Homo sapiens: one gene and its partners. The protein of the gene in region 3 purifies or fractionates together with the protein of the main gene of each other region. This does not show direct contact. Each region holds a gene or a part of one and is shown on either strand. Other genes may lie near its edges.

The links.
Region 1: the proteins of EDC3 (region 3) and KIF13B purify together in Homo sapiens (affinity purification with mass spectrometry, with the first as the bait; one large-scale study listed by BioGRID). This does not show direct contact.
Region 2: the proteins of EDC3 (region 3) and CBY1 purify together in Homo sapiens (affinity purification with mass spectrometry, with the first as the bait; one large-scale study listed by BioGRID). This does not show direct contact.

Annotation. Positions count from the first base shown.
Region 1 is NC_000008.11:29,067,365-29,071,114, forward strand, and holds part of KIF13B (kinesin-like protein KIF13B), read right to left. Parts: intron 3,403-3,750; coding exon 3,140-3,402; 3' UTR 1-3,139. UniProt on the Homo sapiens protein: Involved in reorganization of the cortical cytoskeleton. Regulates axon formation by promoting the formation of extra axons. May be functionally important for the intracellular trafficking of MAGUKs and associated protein complexes.
Region 2 is NC_000022.11:38,659,521-38,663,170, forward strand, and holds part of CBY1 (protein chibby homolog 1), read left to right. Parts: intron 1-3,650. UniProt on the Homo sapiens protein: Inhibits the Wnt/Wingless pathway by binding to CTNNB1/beta-catenin and inhibiting beta-catenin-mediated transcriptional activation through competition with TCF/LEF transcription factors.
Region 3 is NC_000015.10:74,654,383-74,658,032, reverse strand, and holds part of EDC3 (enhancer of mRNA-decapping protein 3), read left to right. Parts: intron 1-1,964; coding exon 1,965-2,300; intron 2,301-3,650. UniProt on the Homo sapiens protein: Binds single-stranded RNA. Involved in the process of mRNA degradation and in the positive regulation of mRNA decapping. May play a role in spermiogenesis and oogenesis.

The DNA of each region.
Region 1 (3,750 bases), on a different chromosome or scaffold from region 3:
GTTCATTACATGATACAAATCATTAGAGTCTTTACAAGTCATTAGAGTCTTTGGATTTTTTAAACTCCCATTTACTGTGTACCAAATCAATATAATCACAGAATCAAAGTCACTTCTTTATATGTGAACTCTTCGCATTTACACGAATCCACACATAGAGAAGCTGTTCCAAGACCCCCCAACACCATTAGTGTCTGCAGCCCACCAGGAAGGCACCACGGACTTTGTGGAGAGAAAGATGCTTTGGGGGTTCAATGGGTCAGTATCTTGGGCAGGAAGCACAGGGTGACTCCCGTCTTGTGTGCGTGCGCACAGCCACCAACACACACTCTCAGGACTTCCCGTTTCACATACAGGGAACTTTTAAGGCAAGAGGAGAAAATGCTAGGAAGTAACGGGGGATCAGAACTCCTCCACCTCTCAGGCTCCAGCAGTCACATTCCCAGCTCCGTTCTCTTGTTGAACCTTGGTAGGCCCAGAAACATCTTCCCCCTCCTCACCTCTGCCCTCCCGCTCCCTCTGGTCAGGCCTGGGTACCCAGGAACCCAGTCACACACCTGCCCCCTGTCCCCTCTGCTGCTGGACGCAGTGCCCGGGGCAGAAGTGAGCCTTCTCACCCTGGAGCCTCAGTCCTTCATAAGGGCCCGAGGGAAGTGGCGGGGTGGGGCCAGGGATGTTCTGGGCACACAATGGGGAGGCAGGGCCCCCAGAAGCATCCCCCACCCCCATCTCTGACAGCGCCGCGTGTGCAGTTACTGCCCTTCCCGGCCTTGGGTGCCATCTGCGGGCCGACCCACACTAAGGTGCCACTCCTGGGGCCTTCCAGGAGCGCATCGGGAGTCCTAAGGCGGGTGGGCGGGCAGGCGTTCTTGGGAGGTGAGTCTGCTGGTCAGGGAGGCAAGAAAAGAAGATAGAAGACGGAGGCCAGCCCGCCCTGGCCCACCACTCTGGAGACCGCACCTCCTGCCTGCCAAGTGCTGGCCCGGGGTCAGCGGGGCTCACTGCCTTGGTGACCACGTCACTGCACATCCCTCTTTCCCAGCCACAAGCTGACATTAGTCCGCACCGAGAAGCAAGAGTGAACAGGGCCTGGGCCCAAATCCACCTGCTCAAGTCAGGAACTCTGGCTCGTTCTACTCCACTGTAAGTCAAACCGATGGTAAAAAGCACGACACACACGTCCCCCAGGACTTTCCCAAGATGGTGCTACAGGAGGCCGCTGCTGGGTGGATGGCTCAGCCACCACGAAGTGCCAGGTCCCACCCACGCTGCCCGTCCGCCACCATTCCCAGAGCGTCCCCACTACACGGCCCAGGCGTTTCCCCTCAGGGCAGCAGCAGTGCTGGCCTCTCACCCAGGCCATAGTGACACCAGCGGACCCAAAAACAAACTTCTCAGTGAAACAGGTTTTAAAAAGAAAGCCGCTGTGCTGGGAAGCGGGTTGAGTTAAAGGGCAAGGCAGAGGTGACAGCTCTTCATCCAGGGACAGGTGCCACAGGGTTCCCTCAAAATCGGCTAAGGACAGGGAGAGCCCTGGAGGAGTGCCTCCCCCCAGGGGCCGGGCCCTCTGCCAGCCCGGCCGCAGCCTTCGTGTCCCTCGCCAACTGGGGAGAGAAAGACAACCTGTCCTCGCAGCCAGGGCTGGGACAGGCCCACCATGGAGACTACTCTGTTGGCGCCTTCAAGTCCCTAGAGAACCAGAGCCTTCCGCAGCGCTTTCTAGATGTTGACTAAATGTGAGAACTAGAAACCAGCTCCAAGGGTGGCTGTGTGAATCTTGACCCAGGACTCCTGTCCCTAGATTGGTGGCCTTCCACACATAGACGCTAACCCCCATCCCACAAACCTGGCACCAAAGGCTCTGGGAGCATAAGTGCCCCAGCCAGGAGGTGGAGGCCACCCCGGAAGCTTCCGGCTGTCCCGCCCACACCATGCACGGTGGGCCTGGGGGCGTGGCTGCTGTGAGGGTCTGGAGACTAACCAGCACACTCCCTGCACCAGCCCAGCCGCCAGGCCCCAGCCCCACACTCTGAGAGTCTGGGAGTTGCCGAGAAGTTAAAATGACCCAAAGACCTTCCTAGAAACCAAAAGTGCACCAAATAAAGTAGCAATGCCTCTTCCTTTGTCACCGACTACAGAAGCACATCATTCTCCCAGGTTTTTGCTCTCATCCAAGTTAAGAGTAAGGCCACTGTGGATCCGCAATAGAGGGATGTGAGGAGGGGGCTTTATCCTCTGCCGTCCCCAGGACCCTCCACCTGGGCAGGAGGCCAGCAGCTCTGCAATGGCCAGAGAGGCTGCAACGTGCAAGGCAGGCCCTGGGCCCCCCCACACAGGCAGACGACGATTGCGGCTCGCAAATGATTTCGGATTTTGAAAAAATAAATATAAATAAATACATTCCAAGCCTTCTGTGAAGGGAATAAACGGCAAACATAAGAGACTTTCCAGGTGTCTAAAGATGCCAAAACATCCACAGAGAAACCGCTAAGAAACCCTGGCAGAGGAGGGATGGGGGGGCTCAGGCCCTCGGCCCCCGTCTGGGGCACCAGGACCATCTGCCAGAGCCCAGGGCCCTCCAGAGGCACTTGTGGAACCTGGGACCAGGGTGGGAGGCTGGGGGGTCCCCCAGAGGCACTTTGCGGGAAACTGGGACCAGGGTGGGAGGCTGGGGGGCTTGCGGAGTGAGCCAGGACATCCTGGGTGGGTGGGGGGGCTTGCCCTCCAGTGGGGAGGAAAGGCACTGGTTACAATTATGGTTTAGGTTAAGACATTAGTGGGGCCACCAGAATGGAAATGATAGAAAGAGCAACATAAGGCCCCAGGCACAGGCACACAGCAAGATCACCAGGCGCTGCACCACCCAGGGTCTCAGTCCTAGCATCCCCCAGCCCCTGCGGGCACCCAGAACCTTCCATCCACCTGAGGAGGCACAGTTGAGGCCCCCACTTTACCCGGGTACAGAAGAAACAAAGCTTCCAGAGGCCCAGGGAGGTCACCAGCCCTGTGTCGTGCAAAAAGCATTCATCGCCCTGCCCCTGGGGAAGGGGCCACCGGGCTCCTGGCTCCTCAGGGCTGTCACTGGCAGGGCTCAAAAGGGGCCGGGCACCCCCAGAAAAGTTCGCCCTAAGGCAGCGGCTCAGCTGGCCCAGGATTTCCGGTTCTCAGGGTTCTTGTGGCTCCTGTCGGCCTTGGCCAGGGCAGCTGTCAGCGAGGCCAGGTTGGTGGCGGAGCCCGAGAGGGTGGCGCTCCGGCGGGCCTCGGGGGCACCCAGCCGGAGTCCTGTGCTGCGCCGCCGCACAGGGCCCGTGGCCCTGCGGACCCGGCTGGGCCTGACCAGCAGCCCGTAGCCAGGGTTACACCTGAAGTACTGCTTCCCGCCGATGGAACCGTCATTCTTACCTGCGGGGGAAGGAGAGGGTGATATGGAGGGCAGCCGAGCTGCAGACGGCCCCCTGCACCTCCCTTACCTCTGCAGAGGCCATGTGCCCACACTGCCACCCCCCCGCACAGGCCCTACACAGCCAGCACTCGGACACTGGCCATTGTCTGGCAGGGACTGGCTAAATGAATGTGGCCAGGGCCTGGGGTGACCGCCTCCCAGGACAGTGAGCAGTGGTGACCAAGGATGCACAGCCCCAGTCCTGCAGCCTCAGGTAGGAGGTGACAGGCCCTGGGGGCCCTGGGGAGTGCCTTGTGGAAGCATAGGTGCAGGCCAGCCACTAAGGCACAACCGGCCCGCCTCGTGCG
Region 2 (3,650 bases), on a different chromosome or scaffold from region 3:
ATTATAGGCATGAGCCACCGTGCCCGGCTTAGGCCCACAATTTTATTATAAGAATGTGCTGGCCGGGCACGGTGGCTCACACCTGTCGTCCCAGCACTTTGGGAGGCCAAGGCGGGCAGATCACAAGGTCAGGAGATCGAGACCATCCTGGCTAACACGGTGAAACCCCATCTCTACTAAAAATACAAAAAATTGCCCAGGTGTGGTGGCAGGCGCCTGTAGTCCCAGCTACTCGGGAGGCTGAGGCGGGAGAATGGTGTGAACCTGGGAGGCGGAGCTTGCAGTGAGCCGACATCGCACCACTGCACTCCAGCCCGGGCGACAGAGTGAGACTCTGTCTCAAAAAAAAAAAAAAAAAAAAAGAATGTGCCACAAATTATTTGGCTACACCCAAATTGTTTGGATTGTTTCTTATTTTTTACTGTTATCAACAATAGAGAACATTGGGTGTGAGCATGTCCAAGTCTTTCTGGAGTGTAAAATTTTAGAAGTAGAGTTGCTGTCCAAAAAGTGTACACATTGACAATTTTGCCAAGTTTTGAGTGCCCTTGAAAGAATTATAGCATCTTCTGATTCCACCAGTAATAACAGTGTCTTTTTCTTCACATCCTCATCAACCATGGGTATTATTCATCTTTTTAATTTTTGCCAATATGATGAGTGAAAATGCATTTTTTTAACTTTTTTTTTTTGAGATGGAGTGTTGCTCTGTCACCCAGGCTGGAGTGCAGTGGCGTGATCTTGGCTCACTGCAACCTCTGCCTCCCAGGTTCAAGTGATTCTCCTGTCTCAGCCCCCCGAGTAGCTGGGATTACAGGCTCATGCCACCGCGCCTGGCTAATTTTTGTGTTTTTAGTAGAGACGGGGTTTCACTGTGTTGGCCAGGCTGGTCCTGAACTCCTGACCTCAAGTGATCCACCTGCCTCGGCCTCCCAAAGTGCTGGGATTACAGGCATGAGCCACCACACCAGGCCGAAAATGCATCTTTTAATGATGTGCCTCACATGTTACTAATACAAGGATAAGTATATACATGTGTATATAGACACACACACACCATATGTATATACACGTATACCATATATGTGTGTGTACAGGTACATACACACACACACACACACACACGCAGACGCATATACACCTTCAGCCAACTGATCATGGCTATGCACCTTGGGAAAATTGGGAAACTACCCCAAACCCTAGCATTTTCATCTTTATTTATTTATTTATTTTTGAGACGGAGTTTCACTCTTGTTGCCCAGGCTGGAGCGCAATGACACGATCTCCCTCACCGCAGCCTCCACCTCCTGGGTTCAAGCGATTCTCCTGCCTCAGTCTCCAGAACTTTATTCATGGATATTCCTATTTTATTTTTGTTCTGTCCTTTACATAAGATTACAGACATAAGATTAATGCTTTTCCCTCTTCTAACCTCTTTCTCTTCTCCAGCAGAAACAGTGCCAGGGCCTTACAATGTGTTTTGGATGGTGACATAGCATCAACCCCCCTCTGCATCTTGGTCCCCACCCCGTCCCCTCCACTACCAAGCTGGAAGCACTCTGGTTTGTCCAAGTTCTAAAGTGCTGTGCCCAGGCCCAAATGCCATCCCCTAAGTTGCTGGTCTATGATTCTTTTTATTTTTATGATTTTATTTTAGTTTATTTTATTTTTGAGACAGAGTCTCGTTCTGTCACCCAGGCTGGAGCGCAGTGGTGTGTTCTCGGCTCACCGCAACCTCCGCCTCCCAGGTTCAAGCGTTTCTTGTGCCTCAGCCTCCCAGGCAGTTGGGATTACAGGTGAGCACCACCACTCCCGGCTAATTTTTGTACATTTTTAGTAGAGACAGGGTTTCACCATGTTGGCCAGACTGGTCTCGAACTTCTGACCTCAGGTGATCCACCTGCCTTGGCCTCCCAAAGTGCTGGGATTACAGGCGTGAGCCACTGTATGATTGTTTTTAATTCAAACACGTAACTACCAGGAAAGCTGTCATGAGCACATAACCCCAAATACCTTCATTTATTTATAAATTACATATACATATACTTATGTATTGTATGTTTTACATACATTCCAAAGAAGCTTCTTAACTTTTATCATTAATTTTAGTGAGATCAATTTCTCCCTTAATGAAAACAGCCTGGAAGTTTTTTTTCCTGTTCTCATTGGATACATATCTTGCTGATTGTGATGGATTCATACTTTGAATTCTCTTTTAATGATAATGGATATAAAACCTTGTTTCAAATAGTCTTGAAAAGATACCAACCCCTCCTCCTGCCTTTTTTGGCCCATTTCTTGTCAGATCCAGTTAACCCGTTACTGCTTTTATTTCATAATGTAGTGAAGGAAGACCTTACGCCCAGGAGGAGCAGTGAGAGGTCGGCTGTTTTCTTTTTGCTCACTTGTGCCGTCATTGTTGTTCTCTTCAGTCTATGGCTTCTTAGAAGGATTCTTTGTAAGCTGTGTGCGTGATATAAATTAAAATTGAATAATATAGGCCAGGCGTGGTGGCTCAGGCCTGTAATCCCAGCACTTTGAGAGGCCAAGTTGGGCCAGTCGCTTGAGCTCAGGAGTTCGTGACCAGCCTGGGCAACATGGCGAAACCCCGTCTCTACAAAAGACACAAAAATTAGCTGGGCCTAGTGGCGCGTGCCTGTGATCTCAGCTACTTGGGAAGCTGAGGTGGGAGAATCGCTTGAACCTGGGAGGTTGAGGCTGCAGTGAGCCGAGATCACGCCACTGCACTCTAGCCTGGGCAACAGAATGAGACTCTGTCTCAAAAAAAAAAATAAATAAATAAATAAAATAAAAAATTGGGTGATATATGGGGAAAAAAAGAACACTAACCCCTGTTTTACATCATATACAAATATTAATTCAAGATGAATTATAGTCACAAATGTGAAATGCAAACAATAATATTACCAGAAGTTAACAGAAAATATCATCATGACCTTGGGGTAGGCAATTTTTTTTGGGGGGCGGGGGACAGGATCTCACTCTGTCACCCAAGCTGGAGTGCAGTGTCATAATCTCAGCTCACTGCAACCTCTGGCTCCTGGGCGCAAGCAATCCTCCCACCTCTGCCTCCTGAATAGCTGGGACCACAGGCGTACACCACCATGCCCAGCTAATTTTTTGTATCTTTGGTAGAGACAGGGTTTTGTTTGCCATGTTGCCCAGGATGGTCTTGAACTCCTGGACTCAAGTTATTTGCCTGCCTCTGCCTCCCAAAGTGCTAGGATTTATAGGCATGAGGCACCATACCCAGCCTGGGGTAGGCAAACATTTTAAAAATACAATACAAGCACTAATCATTAAGAAATAATAATAAATTGGGCTGGGTGCAGTGGCTTATGCCTGTAATCCCAGCACTTTGGGAGGTCAGGAATTCAAGACCAGCCTGGCCAACATGGCGAAACACCATCTCTGCTAAAAGTACAAACATTAGTTGGGTGTGGTGGCAGGCGCCTGTAATCCCAGCTACTCAGGAGGCTGAGGCAGGAGAATTGCTTGAACCCAGGAAGCAGAGGTTGCAGTCAGCTGAGATCACATCACTGCCCTCCAGCCTGGGCGACAGAGTAAGACTTGATCTCAAAATAAATAAATAAATAAATAAATAATTGGATTTCATTATAATTAAGAAC
Region 3 (3,650 bases):
TGACTGATGTGTAGTAGCCAAATAAGGTGTCAGAGACAGGGTGTGGCTGGCTACTCTGTTGTGGATGTGCATTAGTGTGGCCTCTACAGGATCAGTTCAGTATGGACCCTGTCATTATTTGGTGTTTCAGAAACTGCTTACCCACAAGAGATAAAATTCTGAGAAAAGAGATCACGTTAACCGAAAGGTCTAAAGAAAGGTTTGTAAGTCAGAATAGCAATTTGTAGTGGTAGGTGTATACCTGGCTCAGAATGTAGAATTTTTTGAGCAAACCAGGGATTCCCTGCTGCTGGGATCTAGCCTAAGACCAAATTAAAAATCAGAAGATTGCTTGCTGGGTAAGCATAGATTTAAGGACTAGCTGAATAGTATTTTCCTACAAGCTTCAGGCTATAAGACCAGGCCTTCTTTTACTCTGGGGGTATTTCTCTCTTAAACAACTGCCAGACACTCAGACTCAAACTGAAGCAGGATATTTCCCTTCCCTGACCTATTCACAGGACTCATGACAGGGGTGCCCCGTTTACTCCACGCACTGCTCTCAACTCCTTGCAGAAGGGAGTGTGCGAGAGAACAAGGCAGGAACTGGAGTGCACAAGCACTGGAACCTGGCTGTCTGTTTCAGTGCCAGTGGGATCAAACTCCACTCACTCAGACCCACTGTGTTCTACCCATTGTGGGAGGGAGTGCACATGTGAGCCGGTGCAGGAGCCAGAATGAGCGCTTCTGGGCACCAGCAGGAGCGAACTCTGTGCAGGCCATATGGCAGCATCTAGGTGGGGTGTCTACAACTCCTGAAGCCCCAGAGGATGTGTTATGGTGCTCTTTTAGCTCTGCCATCCACAGATGGCTTAAGTGTTAACAGCTCAGTGGGCCTGCAGCTGCCCTCTGCCAGTGAGGGCAAAGGATCAGTGTGACAGTCTTTTGTATCTGCACTCATGGCTTCTGAGCTTTTGTCCAGTGTCCAGGAAAAATGAGGTCACATGAATGAATTAAAGGATGGTAAATGTGGGTGATTTTATTTTTATTTATGTGGGAAGGGGAGCTGAAAAGGGGACAGTCAGTGGTGGGTAGGTAATTTTCCCCTTAAGTCTGGCTGTCTCCAGCCAAATTCTTCTCCATAGTTACACAGTCAAGCTATCCCTCTGAAGTCAAGCCACTTCTCTCTGACATCCAGCCATAGTCTCCAACATCCAGCTGTTTCTCATCTCTGCTGACTGAGTCTGGGGTCTTTATAGGCACAGGATAGGGTGGGGGCAGAGCCATGGGTGGTTTAAGAAAAGACAACATTCTAGTGGGAAAACAGGGATATAAGTTCTCACTTTGGGCCACAGTCTCAGCCTTTTCAGCTTCAAAGGTGGGGCTTCGCCAGGGACCCGCCTCTAGAATTTCTCTGCCTCCTGCCTCTGTCATTATGTCAAAACCACCATGCTATATTCTTACTCTTCCTCTTGTTTGCTAATAGTAAGTTGTCAGAAAAACTTTTGTCATTACCAGTTTCCTTATGAAGGGGATAACTGGTTAAGATTTCCAGGAGTACTGCTTATTTCATATTCATTAACAAGTTACTTGGGTAATATTTGTTGTTGTTTGTGTGTGTGTGTGTGTGTGTGTGTGTGTGTGTGTTTTGAGACAGATTCTTGCTCTTTGCCCAGGCTGGGGTGCAGTGTCGTGATCATCACTCACTGCAGCCTTGAACTCCTAGGCACAAGCGATCCTCCTGCCTCAGCCTCCCAATGTGGGATTATAGGCGTGAGCCACTGTGCCCAGATTGGGTGATGTTTGAAACCTATTATTGCACATGAGATTTGTTGTTTGTGCTACTTAATATGAGTTTGCAATAGTTACCTTTACCATTTTCACATTGGTTCCTGTAACACTCTCCACAAAAGACTAATGTATTTTCCACGTTCACTGAGCGCTTTCTGTGGATACACTGACTTTAGTCCCTATTTTTTCTCCAGGGTCATCTAGTAGCAGGCACCCAAATCAGGCAACTCCCAAGAAAAGTGGTTTAAAGAATGGCCAGATGAAGAATAAAGATGACGAGTGCTTCGGGGATGATATTGAGGAGATCCCAGACACAGATTTTGATTTTGAAGGGAACCTGGCTCTTTTTGACAAGGCAGCTGTGTTTGAGGAGATTGATACCTATGAAAGGAGAAGTGGTACCCGTTCCCGGGGCATCCCAAATGAAAGGCCCACTCGGTACCGCCATGATGAGAACATCTTGGAGTCCGAGCCCATTGTCTATCGACGGATCATAGTGCCCCACAACGTGAGCAAGGAGTTCTGCACGGGTGAGTTGCATCAGGTCCCACATCCTGCTGGTTGCTGTTGCCTTTCTATTATGCTTGAAACAGAAAGACCTGGCTTCTGAGTCAGAATCTCACACTAGGAATTAATTTAAGTGGCTTGGTGGCTGGCCCGGTATTATTGTCTCTTGGGGATTGCAGCCAATAACAGCATTCTGCCATGGTGGAGGGGTAATTTCTGTAGATGTCTGTGTATATCCTGTATCTGGTAGGATATGGCCTGCCACTTATTTAGTATGCTGTGAGTAACAACTAAAGGCAAAGGGCCTGCTATGTAGATTCAAATATTCAGATCTATTTTCACTTTGGCTTCTCTATTACTGCCCATACATTTCACCAGACTTCAACTCTGTTTTACTAATTATTTGTTGTTGCAAAAAAACAGTTGAAGATGGATGATTGGAATCATTGGCTAAAAATAGAGTTTTAATAAATTACATTTCTTTACTATGCTGTTCTTATCTCCTGTTAGCCCAGGACATTGAAAGTTGGCTAATTTCATGTAACAGTGTAGTGCCTTATGTAGGTCATTGTAGATGATAATCTAGTTCTATTACCTCAGTGATTATTGTTTCTTTTTTTAGCATTAGAACCTTTTCTTCAAACCTATGGCATATAAAACAGATTAAAGCAGTGTGAGAGAGGTAATTCATCACATCCGTGTCCCATCCCTTCCCCTCAAACCACATTACTAACTGGGCCTCTTGGAATATGGTTTGAAAACCATTGTTATTGAATGATCCTAAGAGCTAAAGGGGAAGTCATAATCATTTTAGTAAGTAGAGAAGGAATTGAGTATAATATTTTTATTTTGGTTTGAAGTTTGGAATATAAGGAATATAAATCTTGAATGCTGGTAGCTGCTATAAGGAGAACTGTGGACGCAGCTAATTGCATTTGGAGGAAAGCCAGACATGGCTTTTTTTTTATAGATAATAGTAGGACTCTGTTGTATTTGGTTTCGCTGAGTATAGTAGCTTGCATGTGCTTTCCATGTGAAAAAAAAAAATAGGCCAACTGTCAGGCTAAGAAAGACTGCTAAAAAAAAAACAAGCTGCTGAACTGTGTCAGTCTTTTGCTGGCAGATTCTGGTAGGCATGCCTGTTTATTAAGGTGGTTTCCTTAAGTGGCAGTGACAGTGACACTGTAACTTGCCGAAGTCCTTCGATTTTTAACACCTGTGTAAAGGCAAACAGCCTAGCTCAGAATCGGGTTTAATTTAAATTGCTAGGTTTTAAGCCTTTCAAAGGCAGTTATCATCTGTTAAGTCTGGTACTCCTCCAGATCAGCCAACTATCTACCTCTGACTGCTTCCTTTTTTACTGCCCTCTTTGT